Regions from separate parts of the Homo sapiens genome. Here region 2 is linked to region 1. The links come from fine-mapping of genetic effects on gene expression. A gene starts in region 1. The other region holds a variant in brackets. All regions are shown on one strand. Distances are from middle to middle. Region 1 holds the start of TIPARP (TCDD inducible poly(ADP-ribose) polymerase). Region 2 has its middle 52 kb from the start of TIPARP.

Evidence for each region.
Region 2: its variant is fine-mapped to the expression of TIPARP in whole blood (INTERVAL, PIP above 0.99).

Annotation. Positions count from the first base shown.
Region 1 is chr3:156,673,189-156,676,097 of GRCh38, reverse strand. It overlaps TIPARP (TCDD inducible poly(ADP-ribose) polymerase), which reads right to left and starts at 1,508. Exons shown (of 6, transcript NM_015508.5): 1 at 1,302-1,508. It overlaps TIPARP-AS1 (TIPARP antisense RNA 1), which reads left to right and starts at 385. Exons shown (of 1, transcript NR_027954.1): 1 at 385-2,909. RefSeq lists silencers at 423-782, 1,153-1,222, 1,253-1,302 and an enhancer at 1,713-2,012.
Region 2 is chr3:156,621,271-156,624,179 of GRCh38, reverse strand. No RefSeq gene overlaps it. Among named protein-coding and RNA genes, the nearest start is that of TIPARP, 52 kb to the left of the region's middle. The variant G/T (reference allele first, on the strand shown) is at 1,657.

The DNA of each region.
Region 1 (2,909 bases):
TGTGCTTTCCCCACGCGCACACTCTCTAACCACTCCTATCAAACCCAATCAAGGTAAAATAGACACTAAATCGATTTTATTTATATGTGTGTCTGCGCGTACACACGCAAGCGCGCGCGCGCAACTTTTCCTATTATTGCCCTTTCATCAAACTCGGAAACAAAACTGGGAGGAAGAAGCAGAGAACTGGAGAAGTGGCTGGAGGGGGAAAGCCACTAGAACCTAGCTCCTCAATTAGTTTTCATAACAGAAAAATAAAGATGAGAAGAACACATCCTCCGGTCTCCAGCGGCAGGCGACACACCGCGACACCCCTCACCTCGTGACGCTGGGGTTCTGCGGCACTCCCGGCCAAAAGCACTTTCCGAAAAAACTGCCGCTCCAAAGCCTGCCCGCCCGCCGCCGCGCGACACCCCGGCGCCGAGCCCGGGTCCGAGTGACGCCTCCTGTTGGCCGCGGCGGTTTGCTCAGCTCCTGGTCCCGGGCCGCGCCAACTCCGCGCAGTGCAGCTGAGGCGCCGCCCGGCTCTGCAATTCCGGGTGTTCCCGGGCGTCCCCGCCCCCGCCTTCCCCTCAGCAGGCGCCTGGGCGCCCCCCAACTCCTGTCCAGCCTCCTTCGGACCAACGACCCGCCCCGGCCTCCCTGCATCCCAGAGACTACTCGCGGCGCCTTCTCTCTCTAATTCTTCTTTACCCCCTCAGCTCACCTCCCGAGGAGCGTCCAACGGGTCTTGGGGGCTCGCAGAACTGAGCCGCGAAGCGCGGGGGAAAGGCGGCGAGCGCTTCCCGCGGCGGCGGGGAGGAAGACGAAGACTTGTGCGCTCTCAAAGTTAATGTGAAAACATCTTCCAAACTTCTGGGCTGCAGCCCGAAACGCGGGGTAGCCGGAAGGCTCCCGTAGCTGCCGTGCCCTCCCCCCCGGGGTCTGGGAAGGGCTCCTAGGCGCCTCAGAGCACCCGGGGTCGGCCCGCGGGGGAGGCCGCATAGACGCGCCCCCACCCTGACGAACGGGGAAGGGGCAGGCGCCTGCGACCCCAACTAAATCCTTCGGCGCCTCGGTCTGATGTATACACCTGCCACAGGCTCTAAGTGCCTAAGAAGTGTAAACCAATTCCATCTTCATGCTGACGGGACCCGAGTGAATTCGGTACAAAGGGCAGTCTCAAAATCAATCACCCCGATCCGCGAGAGCCCCGCACACTGCCGGCGCGGGGCCGGGGCCGGGGCCGGAGCCGCGAGGCCGGCGCTCGCACTCCCCGCTAGGGTTCTTCAGCCCCTCAGTGCCCTCCCGGAGCCCTTTACCTGAACGGGAGCCTGAGAGAACGGACGACAGGAGCCGAGTGGAAAGCAGTGCCCGCGCCGGAGATCAGCGCCGAGGGCGGGAGCCGACGTCTAGGGACCACAGAGCCGCGACGCGGCGAGCCGCGCACGGGCCATTCCGCCGCCGCGAACGCAGAAAGCCTCGACCGCGCTCCGAGTCCAGCCAGCTCGCCTGTCACCTCGATCTCTGCTTTAAGTGGCTTCCGGTCGCCTCCTCCCGACGGCCCGTCGCGGAGGCGGAGCCTGGGCGGCCGGAGTTCGGTGGGGTGGGGTGAGGAGGCCGGGCGCTCAGTGGGTGTCGGGAAGAAGACCCGCCCCCTGCGCGCGCGTGCGCGTTCGTTCGAGGGGAGGCGCGCGAGTTCTGTGCGGTGGACTTATGCTCCCGCGAGGGGGCGTGTCCTTTCTCGCGTCCGCAGTGTCCCTGAGGGTCCGCGTCTACACGCGGCTGTGAGGAAGGAAGGCGCGTGCCGCGTGGGACGGGCTCCACCTGCCTGCGGACAGATGGAGGGTCACTTTGTTCCGAGAAGACCCAGACACCCGAGGGAGGATGTGAAACGGAACGACCCGTTTCGGTGCGGTTGGCTTTGTTTATTTGCCTACTCCCCAGACGCCTCCAGCCTCTGATTCCGGCACACCCTGTGAGGAAGCAAACGGCTGCCTCCCCCACTGCCACCAGACGAGGTCGCCTGCCCCGAGCCGGACAGGCTGGACAGGCTGCGCACCTGCGGCGGCCGACTATTTCGTGGGCCTTGTACGCCACCTTGCAGAAGGGAAGCTGTGAGGTTTTGGCGATAGAAGCGCATTTACTTGTGTTTTAAAGCCCACAAACGCCGTAGTGACTAACTTATTCATTCAGCAAATGTCTGTCAGAGCGTCTATTACGTACCAGGCATGTAGCCTGAACTTCACGCCTGTCCTCATGGAGCTTGCAGAGCACCTCTGAAATACACACCACATACGGAATGGCCATATTTTCTGGGTTGTAAAATACTTTGAATTGTAACTCCATATATTGAATAGATTTTCAGTAGTGAGGGAAGAAACAATACATTTAGTTCATATAATCCATATGTACGAAAAAGAAGTGCTGGTAATTCCAGACATGGAAGTCAGTAAAACTAGGAGCTAAGAGGTAATAATCATAGACATTATGATTCTAAGCCTTTGTTAAACGGTTCTAAACCAGACTGGGTAAGCGCACCAGCAATGAATAGATTAAGGGTGTTATCTCCTTAGCAGCTTATTTCAAATTGCATCAAGGCAGGGCCATTAAACTAAGGTGAGAATGATATGGGCGGAATTCAGAGGACAATAGGTAAAAGATGAAAATCTTTACATTTAAAATCTTATTGAGACAAGATCTTGGTCAGTGTCTACTCATACATAGAATTGCCTAGAAGCTAATATTTGAGTTTACCATATTACTGTTGGCTTTCTATTTTTCTCATTTGTTCTGTTTCTTTTCTGTCCTTTTGTGCCTTCTTGTAGATTATTAATTCCACTCCCTTGTAACAATTAGGTTGTTATACATTCTTTATGCTTTTAGTAGTATTTCAGTTATTTATTGCTGTGTTCAAACCACCCCCAAAA
Region 2 (2,909 bases), 52 kb after region 1:
GGTGAACAACAGGCTTGCAGCCGTGTCCACAGCTGTAGTGTATGCATATACCCTTGTAGTCTACTTGCCACCTGGTCAAGGGCACTCGCCCTATCGTCACTTATGTAACACTGGGCAGCTGCCTCTGTTTAAGGTATGCCTGAGTACATGCCCGACATTTCTGACAAGCCTCACAAATATCTTGTACGGGCAGATACAGACCCCAACACTTATTGACATGTTGCATCAGTTTACCCCCCACACGTCCCAGTTTCCAGTGTAGCCACAAAGCCACATCTTGTGGAGGTGCTGAATCTAACCATCAGACCTTGGCCAAGGCATCTGCTTCATCCTTGCCAGGGGTGGCCAAAGGCATATGGCCTGACACGTGATAAATAATTACCTCTTTCTGATGATCCATTTCCCAGAGGTCTTGCCACGTGGCTTGGCCCCAAATGGGTGAGTGGCCAACTAGCCACTTCTGTATTTGCCAGGTAGTTACCACAAGGTTAAGCCTCGAGAGACCACCCAGCTATTGGTACAGATTACCATAGGTGTCACCTCCTTTGTGATCACCATCCATGCTGCTCTAAGTTCAGCCCATTGGCTATTTTGTTCACACCCGGTTTCAACCATATGGTGTCAGTACAAGGTTGGACTGCAACGGCAGTCCAGGCTGCAGTAGCACCTCAGTTAGACCCATCTGTTTACCATGCCCCATCAGGAATTGAGGGATGCCCTTCCTTAAATGGTGAAGGCTCAGGGTCTAGGGCTGCCTCAGGCCCCATGGCCTTATCTTGCATTAGGACTACAGGTCCCAAGACCTCTTGCAACTCTGCTGCTAAGGGGTTTGTACTCAGTGTACCCTGCTGCTCCACGTAGGCACCCCACTTTGCCAAAGTGGATGTCTGCACCGTCCCAGTCTGGGGGGTCGTTACCCATGAATGCACCCATCTCACTATTGGGTAAGTTATCCACACGACGACTGCAGCCCATCCTGTCACACTCTCACAGCTTGAAGGGCAGCATATATAGCTGCTAGCGTTTCTCTATCAGGGAATACTGGAGCTCATCTCCCTTCCATAGTTGGGACCAAAAGCCTACTGGCACTTGCAAGCACTCTATGCACTGCCACAGGCCCCCCAGCCGAAACCATCTGTGGTCACATGCACATCCAGCTCAAATGGGTGCCCCAAGTCAACTACCCATAGGGCTTGTGCCTGCTGAATAGCCAGCTTGGCTGCCAGGAAGGCGGTCTCAGCCGCATCATCCCAATCCCAGGGAGCTCCCTTCTTTGTTAACCAATGCAACAATTTTATCATTTGAGCTAAAAAGGACACAAATGCCCGCTGATATCCCAGGAGCCCCACAAAAATCTGCAGCTTCTTCACTGTGGTGGGCCAGGGATATGCCTGAATCTTATCAATCATAGCCTCTGGGATGGCCTTTGTCTTACCTGACCAGATAACTCCCAAGAATTTGGCAGCTAATCCAGGCCCTTGGACCTTGGATTCATTGATGGCCCAACCGTATGCTGCTACATGTTGCTGCAAGAGGGGTGCCACCACTTCTAAATCTGCAAGAGAATCAGAGGTTAACATGATATCATCAATATAATGGAATAGGTGGACCCCTTCTGGACATTGCCAGGCAGCTAAATCTGTTGCAACTAGACCA[G/T]GACATATGGTGGGGCTATGCACATAGCCCTGCAGCAACACTGTGAAAGTCCATTGTTGCCTATCCCACATGAAGGCAAACTGTTCCTGGGTCTCTGGAGCAATGTCAATGGAGAAAAATGCATTGGCCAAGTCCACTTCATAGTGATACTGTCCCAGTTCTGTCATCAAACAGTCCATCAAATCCATGATTGACAGTACAGCTGCATGCAAAGGGGGTGTTACTTTATTCAGTTCCCAATAGTCCACCATCATCCAACAAGTTCCATTAGGCTTTCTAACTGGCCACACTGGAGAATTGTAGGGGCTGTGGGTGCCACACACTATCTGCACCTCCTCCAGGTTTTTAATTGTCTCAGTTATCTCTGTATGCCCACCTGGCAAACAGTATTGATGGGTGGAAGTAACCTGTCAGGGTTGTGGCAGGACCTGAGGCTGGTGACATGTATGTCCACGCAGCATCGGCTTCACCACACACACTCAGAGTCTGAATTCCCTGGGTGTGGTTTGTAATGCCAGGCCATGTAAAATGTCCATCCCCAGAATGTATTCTGGTATGGGAGAGAAATACACAGAATATAAATGGGGAGCCAAACAGCAGATGCCAAGGTGCAGAGATACAGGTTTCACTTCCACTGACCAGCCTCCATATCCATCAATGTAAGCAGGTTAGCCCTGAAATTTATTTGGGTTCCCATAAGCAAGGACACAATCTGTGCCAGTATCCACCAGCACCAGCACCCATTGTACACTAGTGGAAGACCAGTGGATCACTAATTCCACACGTGGTCGCTGGTTGTCTGGTGTCCCCCCAAGATGGGCACCTCAGCCAGTTTCCTAATCAAACAGAAAAGGCTCTACATTTCCACCTGGCTGCAGCAAGTAGTCTTTGAGCTGAAGTGCCCGGGTGGGACTGGGTCACGCAGCAATGTCCTTCTCCCCGTTGGGCATTTTCTGGAATTGCTGCTCCAGAGACAATTATCTCCACAAAGTTAAGAGTACTTCATTGGGCTGCTTATTGATTTTCTCTCGGTCAACCCCGGTCAAAATCAAATCTATCCACATCCGTGAGCATGTTACTTGTTGGGGCCCTCTTTTCTCCCATGGGGGGGCCCCTGTGGGCAGAGCATCTTCCCCTTCTTTATGGCATAGACCCCTCAGTCCTGCTGACAGCCTTCTGCTTCCCCAAGAGCTGTCACAGCAATGGTCACTTCATGTATGTGGTGCCCTATGTACAGGGTGAGGACAGCAGCT